Regions from separate parts of the Homo sapiens genome. Here region 1 is linked to region 2. The links come from fine-mapping of genetic effects on gene expression. A gene starts in region 2. The other region holds a variant in brackets. All regions are shown on one strand. Distances are from middle to middle.

Region 1 (3,015 bases), 120 kb after region 2:
CACATTCAATACTATGATGACGGTTACAAATATTTTATGACTCTATGCCATACTGTCACATTTTATGTAATCAATAAAAATTCCATATTCAAAAAGTTTTTAATAAAAAGCAAAATTATCACTATATAATGTTAAGTAAAGGGTGAAGGATACAAACTGTACGATCTCAGTTTTTTGTAGCAAGAAAAAGAAAAAAATAAATATATCAAAAATTTTACATGTCTGAAAGGAAATACGGCAAAGTTTTAAAAAATGGTGACCTCTTGTAGGTGATACAATTGTGGGTGATTTTTTTCTTCCTGATTTTTTTTTTTTTTTGAGACTGAGTCTCAGTCTGTCGCTAGGTCAGATTGCAGTGGCGCGCGCCACCACGCCCAGCTAATTTTTTGTATTTTTAGTAGAGACTGGGTTTCACCATGTTGGCCAGGCTGGTCTCGATCTCTTGACCTTGTGATCTGCCCACCTCAGCCTCCGAAAGTGCGGGGATTACAGGCATGAGCCACGGTGCCCAGCCTTTTCTTCCTAATTTTAAACATCTTCTGTATATTTCCAAATTTTCTACAGTGTAAGTGTGATATTTTACAGCACGATTATTAGAAGGTAAAAATGGGTGAGGCTCTAGGATTTCGAAGGTCACTTTCAGCTCTAAAATTCCTTAATTCACACAGCTCTTATCACTATGGTTTGTTTGTTTTTTGACTTTCCACTGATAGTAACAGAAGAGTATATTACACATTTCCTAATAGCAATGTTATGCATGTCATTGCCTGAGATTCCTAAATCTTGTGCAAGATTTCAACATTATCTGTAGAACTTAAGTGCTAGATTGTGATCTTTTATGAAGTTTTTGAGTGTTGTCAACAGACTGAGTGTTCAGATGAAAATGCCGGGAGAGGACAATACTCGTAAATGTGCATTTCTACATTTAGATATAGCACATTAGTTAGTGCTTCATCATTCAAGAGACATTTAAATTTTACTACATTATAATAACATTCTTAAGAGTTTCCTTAAGACAAGGAGATAAACTCAGTTATTGCTAAGCAAGAATCTGCTGAAACAGTAAACAAACAGGTATAAACAAGTGCATTTGAGTGTGTGGCCACATGCCTGTCACTCCCAAATTCTTGTCCTTTGTTCCCAGCTGGGGAGAAGGTAAACAGAAATGGAGAATGAGGAGTCTCAGCTCCTGGCCTCCGGCCTGCTCAAGCGAAGGGGTAGGAGATCATCCCGCCACTTGCCAGGGATATTTTGGGGATATATCTGACACTGGGTCACATGCACTAGTTGGCCTGCAACAAATCTCAGTCTCCCAGCCAGTCGGCAGCAGATCAGGCACTCCTGTCTTTGAGCCACTGTGGAAGGAACTAGCCTGGGCAGCTCCTCAAAGGGGCTCTTGCTCACATCAAAGCTGGACAGTCAGCCCCTGGTGGGCTTCAGATTCAAAGACCCCTTCTGCCCCCCATCCTTGACTGTTGCCCCTCACAGTGGTCTCACTCTTTCCTTCTTAATCAAGTATGTGGGGCCCCTTTTGGGACAAGCATCCTGGATCAGGACCCAGGCTTTTGGTGACCCAATCCAACGATTCCTGACTCAT[C/T]GCCTTCTGTCCCATAGGCTTGCATTCCTCCATGAGAAATCCCCTTTGCGTCTTCTTTCAGAACTAAACTTTAGATAACTCCTTAAAACCAGAACCCAAATCTTAGCACTATCACCCACTCCCCGCAAAGGGTTACTCTCTACCCCTGAGCAAGGATGGCTTGGTCGGGGGGCATGCCCCTTGCTTTATGGTGGATTGTTACTTTTCATGCAGGGAAAAAAATAAAACGAAACATTAGTGTTTTCATTTAAAAACAAGTTGAACAGTCGTCTCCTGTAAGAGAATCCTGGAGCCCCAGACACACCTAGAAACACAAGTCTGTGCAAAAATACAATGTGTAGATTTATGGAAATGCACATGATGTGAAAAGTCCCTAACGGATGTGTATAAAAATTCGACTTTTTTTTCTTTGAGTCTCACTCTGTCACCCAGGGTGGAGTGAGTGCAGTGGGGCAATCTCGACTCACTGCAGCCTCCGCCTTGTGGGTTCACACGATTCTCTTGTCTCAGCCTCCTGAGTAGCTGGGACTACAGGCGCACGCCACCATGCTTGGCTAATTTTTATATTTTTAGTAGAGACGGGGTTTCACCATGTTGGCCAGGCTGGTCTCAAACCCCTGACCTCAGGTAATCCACCCACCTCGGCCTCCCAAAGTGTTGGGATTTACAGGCATGAGCCACCACGCCCGGCCCAAGTCTTTTTATTCAACACCTCATTTTATTCTTATGCACTGAATGCCACATTGGTTTCTTTTTTCTCTCTCTCTCTCACTCAAAGCACTATTATTAAATCCATGATGCAGCTTACTTTCAACATTATCTTCAAATTTAGGAAATACCATTGTATCATAAGCAGTGGTAATTCCCGTCTGCCAGGTGTCTACCGGGTGAAGGGGTCTTGCTCTGTGCTGGGTGCTCAGAGCCATCCCTGCCCATCTTCGTGCTAATGCCTGGAGGCAGCCACATTAGCTCCACCTCCTGGCTTGGGAGCTGAGGCTCAGAGAGGACAACTAATCAGCCCAAGGTCCCAAGCTAATATGTGGCACACGGAGATCTCAAACCCAGCATGAGGTAGGTACTGTGACCCCTATTGCACAGATGAAAAACAGACATACCGAGATGACGGGAACTCACTCAGGGCACACAAATGATAAGTGGCAGAGAAAAGATTGGAATCAAAATCCTACAAAAATCCTACAAAATTGAGGTGAGGCACAGTGGCTCACACCTGTAATCCCAGCACTTTGGGAGGCCGAGGTGTGTGGATGATCACTTGAGCCCAGAAGTTTGAGACCAGCCCGGGCAACAAAGTGAGACCCCTGTCTTTACAAAAAAATTTAAAAATTAGCCAGATGTGGTGATGTGCCTCTGTAGTCCCAGCTACTTGGGAAGCCAAGGCAGGAGAATCTCTTGAGCCA
Region 2 (2,500 bases):
GGAGGATGAACCAGGGACTGAAGGCTGGGTGAGACTGTCAAAATAGTGCACAGATAATGACCTTTACTACTGTTTCCCATGAGAGTAAAATTTAAAAATTTCACAAGAGTTTGTCAATTAAAGAGGAAATCGAGTTGACTTTAAACACTATATTGACCCTCAGCATCACTTGCCACAGATATAGGTGGTAGGAAGTATGATGTTAGGAGAGCCAGAAGTAGACTGAGGATTTGGCTTCCAGTCTATTATTTCTACTGTGAATCTTTGCACCATCCCTGCTTCTGTCCCTGTACCAGATCCACAGTCCTCAAATGGATAGTGAAGCTGTTCAAAACCCACGACCTCACTTGCTGGTATATACGGTACTATACTATTCCCTACACCATAAAATACTTCTCAGAAAGAAAATATACATGGGGAGGGGAGGTTGATTAAATTAAATCAGGTTAAATTTGGGTGTGCATCAGACGTTCTTTTTTTTTTTTTTTTGAGACGGAGTTTTGCTCTTCTTGCCTAGGCTGGAGTGCAATGATGCGATCTCAGGTCACCGCAACCTCCGCCTCCCGGGTTCCAGTGATTCTCTTGCCTCAGCCTCCCGAAGAGCTGGGATTACAGGCATGAGCCACCACGCCTGGCTAATTTTGTATTTTTAATAGAGACGGGGGTTTCTCCAAGTTGGTCAGGCTGGTCTCGAACTCCCGACCTCAGGTGATCCACCCGCCTAGACCTCTCAAAGTGCTGGGATTACAGGCGTGAGCCACCGCTTCTGGCAAACGTCCTTCTTAATTGTTTGATTCCACTGTCCCAATAGCCGTCTGTCCTTTTCTGCCCCTATTTTTAGTGTCCAGCCACTAGTTGGTAACTTGGTGGCTCCTTCAGGCCTGCTAACTTTTTTTTTTCTTTCACCAAGACTGGTATGAGATACTTAAGAATAGTGGCTTTAACGACAGTTACCAACTTTTAATACAAATGCAGTCGAGAGGGCAAATACTCAAGTTTGGGGGCAGATAGCAGCCAGTCAAATAGGTCCGAGAGGCCCTGGCGAGCTACCGCAGGCCAGCAGGGAGGCCGTGGGCAGGTGGCGGTCGAGGCCGGAGGCAGGAAGCACGGCCGGGCGGGGCTGGGCGGAGCGGCCGCGGAGGAGCAGGGGCCGCAGGCGCCCCGCCCGGACTGGTATGCGGCCGAGAGTGACGCGGGAGGCGGGGTCACGTGACGCCCGTGGAATGCCAACAATGTAGCGAATGTCCCACTTGGGTCTGCGCTTTGGAACCGCGGCGTGAGCGCCCCGGGAAGATGGAGCAGTCGCCGTCCACGCCACCGCCGCCGCCCGGGGCTCCCCCGTCCCTGCGGGGCCAGCAGCAGCTCCAGCCACCAGTGCCCGGTCTCCCGGCGCGAGAGGCCCGGGAGCCGCCGGCCAGGACGCCCCCGAGGGTGTAGACCGCGCCCCTGGAGGTGAGGGGGCTGGGAGCTGGGGTCGGGGCGGCAGCTCGGAGGGTGGCGAGAGTTTCCGCGAAGCGGTCGAGCCCTGCGGCTCCGCGCACCTACTGTGGTGCCGAGGCTCCGGGAAGGGCGCCCGGCGGGGCGGCCGAGGAAGTTTGTCCGGACGGAGCCCTGCGCCCTGCCCCCACGGTCCGCGCCCGCCCGGAGCCGCCCCCGCCCGGCGGCTCGTAGTCCAGGCCGTACGGAGCCCGCGGAGCCGGTTCCAGAGGAGCCGGGGAAGTTGGAGGCCGGCGTCGGGCGGGGGCAGCGGGGCTGCGCCGCTTTGTTGTGCGGCGACCGGGGCGGCCGGGATCCCGGCGGGGCAGGGGCGGCGCGGGCCGGGGGCGGTGTCCTAGACCCGAAAGGCCGTAGCGCCGGGCGCGCCTCTGCTTCCGCTGTCTCCGGGGGATCGGCTTTTCACTAGACGCCCGGCCGGGCGCCCCTGACAGCCTCGGGACCCCCGGTCCGGCGGCGCAGCGGTCCCACGGATCCGGGGCCATCCTCCCGGCCGCGCCATCGTCCCACGGGCCAATCAGTCCTTCAGAGCCCGCCCTGTTGGCCCCCGCCGGCCGCCCCGTCGTCCCGCGAGCCGACGGACCCACGGCGGTGCCGCAGTCGAGGCCGCGCCGCCCCTCAGCCCCCGGTGGCTGCGCCGCCTCACCCACTGCCGCGCGGTTCCCACCCCGTTCCCCGCGGCCGCGCCGCCGGCTCACGGGCCAGTCAGCCCCTCAGAGGCCACCGGACCCTGGGGGCGCCGTTCCTCCCGGGCTGCGGGCGGCCAGGCCCTGCTCGGCGTCTCCCGGCCGGCTGCCGCGCCAACTCTGCGAGTTTGCTCACGGTCTTGGCGGGACGCGGCCCGAGGCGCAGGAGCGCTTTCGTGGCCACGCGAACGGCGGCCGTTGCATAACACGCCATTCCCGTGCCCTAGTTTAGCGACGTGTGGGGGGTTTGGCTTTCTCTTCTGATGTAAGCTCACCTGCGCTTAGCTCCCCAGCCGGACTCTGGAGATGGGGATTCTGAC

Evidence for each region. PIP is the estimated chance that this variant, and not a neighbour inherited with it, causes the effect. A credible set is the group of variants that fine-mapping cannot tell apart.
Region 1: its variant is the best candidate, but not a certain one, in a credible set for the expression of LATS2 in whole blood (TOPMed, PIP 0.56).

The regions. Positions count from the first base shown.
Region 1 is chr13:20,938,065-20,941,079 of GRCh38, reverse strand. LINC00367 (long intergenic non-protein coding RNA 367) reads left to right here. Exons shown (of 6, transcript NR_104058.1): 5 at 1,145-1,217; 6 at 2,430-2,516. Among named protein-coding and RNA genes, the nearest start is that of LINC00367, 9.9 kb to the left of the region's middle. RefSeq lists an enhancer at 981-1,480. The variant C/T (reference allele first, on the strand shown) is at 1,598.
Region 2 is chr13:21,060,298-21,062,797 of GRCh38, reverse strand. LATS2 (large tumor suppressor kinase 2) reads left to right here and starts at 1,212. Exons shown (of 8, transcript NM_014572.3): 1 at 1,212-1,452. RefSeq lists silencers at 998-1,797, 1,938-2,347 and an enhancer at 1,853-2,500.